Linked DNA regions of Homo sapiens. The protein of the gene in region 2 purifies or fractionates together with the protein of the main gene of each other region. This does not show direct contact. Each region holds a gene or a part of one and is shown on either strand. Other genes may lie near its edges.

Region 1 (3,832 bases), on a different chromosome or scaffold from region 2:
ATAATTTTGTACTCTAAGCTTCTTTATTGTATTCTTAAGAAACATTTTGCAATGCAGCTAAAATGAGGAAAACAACTGCTTTAGTCTATAATATTTTGCTAAGCTTGGCAAAACAATGTTGAGACTTGGTTGAGATAATACAGACTTTTTATTTTTTATTTTCTAACAGAAAGGGTCTCACTATTGTCCAGGCAGTTCTCAAACTCCTGGGCTCAAGTGATCCTCTTGCCTCAGCCTCCTGAGTATCTGTGACTGTAGGTGCCCCCACTTCCCTGCCCCTGCACCTGGCTAATCTAGACATTTTTGGTCCCTTTTTATTAACTGAATTTTGCACTCAGTTTATTAGATAATTATAGAAAGTGTGTACCTTTATATATGCCTATCCAAAATAGAAAAGATATGAAGAAAAAGGTTAGAACAGAAAAAAATGATCAGAGGGAAGATTAGCAAAATTTTGTTTAACTCTGATCTTAATAATTTTAACCAGTTTATTACCTCAAGTGCACATCACATGTTAATTTCAGGTAAGATTTTTTATAGTCTTCCATTTGGTGCTTCCTTGGTCTTATTTATAAATTTTTTTATTATTAGGATCCAGTAAGAAATTAAAGGGTATTTTATAAATAGTTCTAATTTAGTTTGAAACTTGATGACTATTATCTTATTAGAATTCTGTCTGGGTTCACTAGCCTAAGGCAGTGCTTCTCAAACCCTAATACATACATGAATCACCTAGGAGCCTAATTCGTTGGTAGGTCTGGGGCGGAGCCTCGTATTCTGCATTTCTAACAAGCTTCCAGGAGATGCCCGTGATTGAGCTGCAAGAGCCTGAGGTACCACAAGGATCCTTGTTATAAAACAAGTTCTCTTTCAATACAGCCCAATAGCACAGAATTTGACAATCCTAGCACTAGGGCTTTGTTCTAGTTATTGAGTGAAATAAAAGCATTTTTAGGGTACAGAAGAAATGGAAAGAACCTTAATCTTTTATATTAATCAGTGTTTTCATATTTTATTTAACTTTTGTATTAATCAGTGTTTTCATATTTTAATCAGTGGAATGGTGAAAAATTAAGATAGGCCTTACTATACGTGATTTTTTTTTTTTTTTTTTTTTTTTCAAGACAGGGCCTTGCTCCCATCACCCAGGCTGAAGGGCAGTCACATCACTACACCCTTGACTTCCCAGGCTCAAGTGATCCTCCCACTCAGCCTCCCTAGTACCTGGGACTACAGGCAGGCTTCACTACACCTGGATAAATTTTTTGTATTTTTAGTAGAGACAGGGTTTCGCCATGTTGCCCAGTTTGGTCTCGAATTCCTGGGCTCAAGTGATCCACCTACCTCGGTTTCCCAAAGTCCTGGGATTACAGGCCTGAGCCACCATGACCAGCTTATAGGTGATATTTTATAGTAAAGAATATATGTATAAAAAAAAGGTTTTTAGTACTACTAATAATAGGTTCATTTCATCCAAAATAGTCTCTCTTTGAGAAGTTTGTACTGCAAGGCAAATTTTGCTCCCATTCAGATTGGTGTGGAAAGAAAAGGTTAAGGAAGTCTTATTATTGGAATAATTTAAGAGGTTTTTATGCCCTTAATTGGGATTGCATTTTAAAAAGTAAAGACTAACAGATTCTTTTGTGTGTTTATAAAGTATTTCTATTGTCAGTATTATTTTTGAACCATAAATTATGAGTATAGTTGAATTTACATTAAAGATAATATGTATTAGATTTTGTAGGCATTTTAGTTATTAAATTTAACTTAGCCTTATGCTTTTTTTGTGCATTTACATACATATTTAATATTTAAAAATAAGTAATCTTAACCCTTTAGAGTGCCAGATTTGGATACATGAAACAAGTAAGTTGCTTTTCATGTATTTCAGTTTGTGTTCTTTTCTTTTTATTTTTTTTTGAGACAGAGTCTCGCTCTGTTGCCCAGGCTAGAGTGCAGTGGCGCGATCTCGGCTCACTGCAACCTTTGCCTCCTGGGTTCAAGCGATTCTCCTGCCTCAGCCTCCCGAGTAGCTGGGATTACAGGCATGTGCCACCATGCCCTACTAGTTTTTGTATTTTTAGTAGAGACGGGGTTTCACCATGTTGGCCAGGCTGGTCACGAACTCCTGACCTCAAGTAATCCGTCTGCCTTGGCCTCCCAAAGTACCGGGATTACAGGCATGAGCCACTGCCCCTGGCCAGTTTGTGTTCTTTTAAAACATCATTTGAAGTTTAACTTAAATGTTTTACAATTAAAAGTGGAAAATTATGGGACACTCAGTGTTTGTTACCCATGAAAGAAACAGATTGTAATCTTCATGATAATATATTAGCAAACGATAATTAAATGTCAGCTGTTCTTTTAATGAATCCCCCAAACAATGAAAGTTTACTACTGTAAGAAATGTGTTTCTAAGTTCTGATTTGTGTCTTGTACTTATTGTTCACTTGGTTGCTATGAAATTCTGTAGAACATATAACCATGCTTTAATTCCAGGGCTAGTTTTGTGATTCTTATAAGATTTAAAAAAATTGTTAATTAAAAATTTAAAAGTATGCCATACTTTGAGACAACACTAAACTCAGGCAACTTAAATATTTTACAGGGTACTTTCTCACTTAATTCACTTGTCAGCAGGCAGGAACAGGGAGATTATTTCCTGTAGTGTTTCTTTTTTATATGTGGTAGCATGTTGCTGTGTCTTCTATAATTCTTCCAAACTTTCCACTGTTAGATAGTTCTAGTTGAAGCAAGGAGAAATTGTGTTTGATTTTTAGGGGTAGGAGTCAGAATGGCATTTGGAGGTTTACATGAGAAGGGAGACTGTTGATGACCAAAGGCAGGAGGAAGGGACTGTGAAACTTTGCACTATTGCCACCACTGGCCTCTTTCTCTAACTAATCATCCTGCATCTCATTCAAAGTTAGGAAATAAAATGACAGGGTACCTTGTGAAAACTAAACAGAAGAGGAGTCGGGGAATAGAGACTTCAAATATTAACAGCTCCTTTATTCTGCTTGATGGGAGAGCCTCTGGAAAATATCACCAAATCACTAGTTTACCCAAATGGATCAATCAAGGCATTTTTCTATATCCCTTACATTTCTGTCATATAAACCTCAAGCATCCACACCAGAATACCTGCTCATCTCCCAAACCACACATTAAAACTGGCACTGGCATATGCTATACACAGGAGTTCAAAGAAGGAAAGGGTGGGATTACAGGAGTAGTCTTGATTTCTTAAATGTAAGTATTTGCTTCAGAGGCTTCTTCCCCATTTTCTTTTCTGGTCTTTGGAACACTCCCTTTCACTTGCTAATTTATGGCTTTATTTCTAGAGACTAGGAAGGCTTGGGTTTGCTTTGTTTTGTTCTTAGCCAATGCAAGCTAGCATTGTGATTTTTGTCTATTTAGTTATGAAAAATTATACTGCAATAAAAAATTTTTGGATGCCAGATTATTATTAAGGGATTTGATCTGAAACTCATTTTAGCAAAAGTAAATTAAAAAGAGGAGAGCCTGCCTTTCTGTATACCGGGAACATTTTGAAAGAACACGAGAAATGATTGGAATAGTTTTTTGAAAGATAGCTGCTATATAAGTTCAAGATTATTATTTTATTTATTTTATTTATTTATTTATTTATTTTTTTGAGACAGTCTCACTCTGTCGCCCAAGCTGGAGTGCAGTGGCATGATCTCGGCTCACTGCAAACTCTGCCTCCCGGGTTCAAGTAATTTTCCTGCCTCAGCCTCCTGAGTATCTGGGATTACAGGCGTGTGCCACCACACCTGGCTAATTTTTGTATTTTTAGTAGAGACAGCGT
Region 2 (3,600 bases):
TCACTGCAAGCTCTGCCTCCCAGGTTCATGCCATTCTCCTGCCTCAGCCTCCCGAGTAGCTGGGACCACAGGCGCTCGCCACCACACCCGGCTAATTTTTTTGTATTTTTAGTAGAGACGGGGTTTCACCGTGTTAGCCAGGATGGTCTCGATCTACTGACCTCGTGATCCGCCCGCCTCAGCCTCCCAAAGTGCTGGGATTACAGGTGTGAACCACCGCGCCCGGCCCTGGCTATGATATTGCTAAGTTTCCTAACCTCTCTAAGGTTCTTTTCTCTTCTATTAAAAGGGAAAAATAAGACCTCCCAACAGAAGTGAAACTAGGCATTGGCTTAACACGTGATGGATGGGAGCCACGACTATCTTCATCATCTTATTTTTAATTATCTATCTGTGCACATGGTAGTAAATTTCTCGCCCTGGCCCAGGTACCCAAGACCCCAATTCTGTCGGAGACAACCGCAATTAACAACTTCTTGTGCATCTTATCAGACAGCTGGCGCGCACACCCGCAGATACGCCCACCCTCAGGCGTCCTTCTACGCAAAGATGGATAGCACCCATCAACGCTGTTTTTTCTTTTTTTAGACGGAGTCTCGCTCTGTCGCCCAGGCTGGAGTGCAGCGGCGCGATCTCGGCTCACTGCAAGCTCCACCTCCCGAGTTCATGCCATTCTCCTGCCTCAGCCTCCAGAGTAGCTGGGACTACAGGCGCCCACCACCACGCCCGGCTGATTTTTTTGTATTTTTAGTAGAGATGAGGTTTCACCAAGTTAGCCAGGATGGTCTCGATCTCCTGACCTCGTGATCCGCCCGCCTCGGCCTCCCAAAGTGCTGGGATTACAGACGTGAGCCACCGCAACCGGCCCAACGCTGTTTTTACTGTTGTTTCCTTTTTTAACCTAAGGTATCTTAGAAGTCACCCTACATTAGTGCATATTAAACATTGTTCGTCTTAATGGCTGCACAGTATTCCACTGTATGGATTATTTTTTAATTTGGTTGCCGGTACTGTTATCAGCCAGGGAATTTGCGAGGACCCAGCGGGATTTATGGAGCTGCAGAGTTGGAGTCTGGGGACCCAATTCCAACCCCAGATCTGTCCAGAATTCTGTTGTCTCGGGTATCATCTCCACCGGCGCGGTCGTGGGAGGGGGATTTGGGTGCAGACAGGACCAGCCCCAGTGTCCGAGCGAGAATCAGCGAGCAGCACGCGCAGTTGATTCCCGCGGGCGGCTCAATCATTCTGTGCAGCCACTCCGTTATACTTAGTAGCATCAAACTCATTAAGCACTCTAGCACAACCAAGCTCGGAACCGTTAGCCGACCCTCCCAGCCTCGGCACCTGACCTTGGGGAAGTGGCGCTCCGACACAGCTACTCACCCTCACCTGGGCCGCTTCACCCCTCGTTCCCAAGTACACCCCGTAGGTTGCAGCAGTCCCTGTCCCTTTAAGGGGGCCGAGCCCGGCTCCGCTACTTCCGCCCCGAAGCAGCAGGGCGCTAGCGCGGAGGCGAGAGCGGGAGAAAGCGCCGCTAGAATTCTCCTCATAAAGATGGCGACGCCCTGGCCGCCGCGTTCGCGCCCGGCGGTGACGTCACTTCCGGGGCGGAGGAGGCTGAGTGGTGCAGTGAGGGACAAACAAAAGGAGGCGCCGGAGCAGCGCTGCGGCCGGCGGCGGGACGGAGCGGCCGGGGCCTGGGGCTGCCTGCCGGGCGGCCGGGCGCGGCGAGCCCAGGTGAGTGGACGGGGTGGGGAAAGGGGCGCGAGCTGTCACCTCTCGAAACCCACTTACACACGCCCTCGGCCAGCTGCCCGGCCCGGGGCGCCCGGGGCATCTGGGGCTCTGTCTCCGGGCCGGCCCCCTGGGGACCTCCCGCGGTGTTCGGCCTACCTCTGGGCTCCCCAGTGCCCGGAGTCTCCGGGGCACCACCTTCTCGCCGGCTCCGCGGCGCGCGAGCCCCCTCCCAGGCACCCCTGTGCCTCCTTGTGCTTCAGAAACCAGGAGTTTCCGCCTCGGCTCCCCCATGTCCCCTTGTCATCCCCTGGGTCCCCCCAGATCCTCACCCCTCCACACACACTCTCCCGTTCCTAGAGGTTCCACCTCTGGGCTCTCTCCTTGCCATTTCTTTTTCAAAGATTTCCTTAGCTGTCTTCTCCTGAGTTCCTGGTCCCCTTCTCTTCCCTTGCACCCCTCCTTCCTATCGTTCCGATGGGGGCAGTGCCCTGACTTGGGGGCAGGATCCCCGGCTAGGCTCTTGGGGCCTTTCTGGGATGGGATATTTGGGAAGACCGGTCCGGAATCTAAGAACCCAGACCCTGTCCCAGTCCTGTGCATTCAGGTGGGCCCGAGGGCGAGGCGAGATCCAGTGAGGTCCAGGCCTGGTGCAGCCCTAGGTGAGCTGGATACCCAGCAAACTGAGCTCCCAGGCTGAAGGGGCATAGCTGGGGTCATGGAGTTCATGATGATTCTGCTGCTTTCGCTGACTGCTTCTTCCCCTTGATCTGGACCGGGGTGAACCGAGGTCTGCCGGTTCTCAGCTGTTGCGATTGTTGCCTTTTTTGGGAAGGAGGGATGGGTCGGGGGTTGTCTGGTAGCCGCCTCCTGATGGAGACTTGGCTGGAAGGGTGGGCGGTTCCTGGGTGAGCCACACTTCCACTGACTCCTCTTCCCCTGCCCTACCTCAGGAAGCCTTTTGAGAATGAGGTGTGGAGGGAGAGCACCTGGTAAGAGGAAGGGAACTGGGGGAGCCCGAAGTTCCCAAGGACCTCTTCCACCTCTTCTGTTAGTAGTACTCTTAACCCCTGCCAAACTGTATTCTGCCCTTTGGAGCAGACAACCTGGCAGACAGACAGGCTGTAAGAAGCGGGAGGAGATCGGCTGTTGCTGATACTTCCTGTGGAGGGGATGTGGGAGTGGGAGTTTGTTCAGAGAGACTGGGCAGTGCTGATTGCTCAGTCTCACTGGTGTTGCTTCCATGAAGGTCAAGTCTTCCTCTGGCTCATGAAGTGAGGCAAGGACAGATGACCTGTGCTGGAGGAGGCTGTTGTGGACATGCCAGGGATGAGTGACTGGGTGGCTGGTCTCTGCTTCCTTGTTTTCCTGGTCTCAGGGCTTTGGCATGGGGTCTGATGCCCTCTGCGTTCTAGGGACCATAGGGTACAGAGCAGGGGGTGCAGGGCCGGGCGTGGTGGCTCACGCCTGTAATCCCAGCACGTTGGGAGGCTGAAGCGGGCAGATCACGAGGTCAGGAGTTCGAGACCAGCCTGGCCAACATAGTGAAACCTTGTCTCTACTAAAAATACAAAAAATTAGCCAGGCATGGGGCTGCGCACCCGTAATCCCAGCTATTCGGGAGGCTGAGGCAGGAGAATTGCTTGAACCCAGCAGGCAGAGGTTGCAGTGAGCCAAGATCGCGCCATTGCACTCCAGCTTGGGCAAGAAGAGCAAAATTCCATCTCAAAAAAACAAAAAAAAAAACAGAGCGGGGGCACAGGAAATGTTCATGACTTCCCCCCAGAACTTGACTAGATGTGGTGGTTCTCCATCCCTTAGGCACACCCACCAGGAAGCCGTTTCCTTTGCAAACTCTTGAATGAC

The links. The genes of interacting proteins can lie anywhere in the genome.
Region 1: the proteins of KYAT1 (region 2) and ZZZ3 purify together in Homo sapiens (affinity purification with mass spectrometry; 2 studies listed by BioGRID and IntAct, with this or other methods). This does not show direct contact.

The regions. Positions count from the first base shown.
Region 1 is NC_000001.11:77,633,994-77,637,825, reverse strand, and holds part of ZZZ3 (ZZ-type zinc finger-containing protein 3), read left to right. Parts: intron 1-3,832.
Region 2 is NC_000009.12:128,880,514-128,884,113, forward strand, and holds the start of KYAT1 (kynurenine--oxoglutarate transaminase 1), read right to left. Parts: upstream 1,438-3,600; 5' UTR 1,384-1,437; intron 1-1,383. UniProt on the Homo sapiens protein: Catalyzes the irreversible transamination of the L-tryptophan metabolite L-kynurenine to form kynurenic acid (KA), an intermediate in the tryptophan catabolic pathway which is also a broad spectrum antagonist of the three ionotropic excitatory amino acid receptors among others.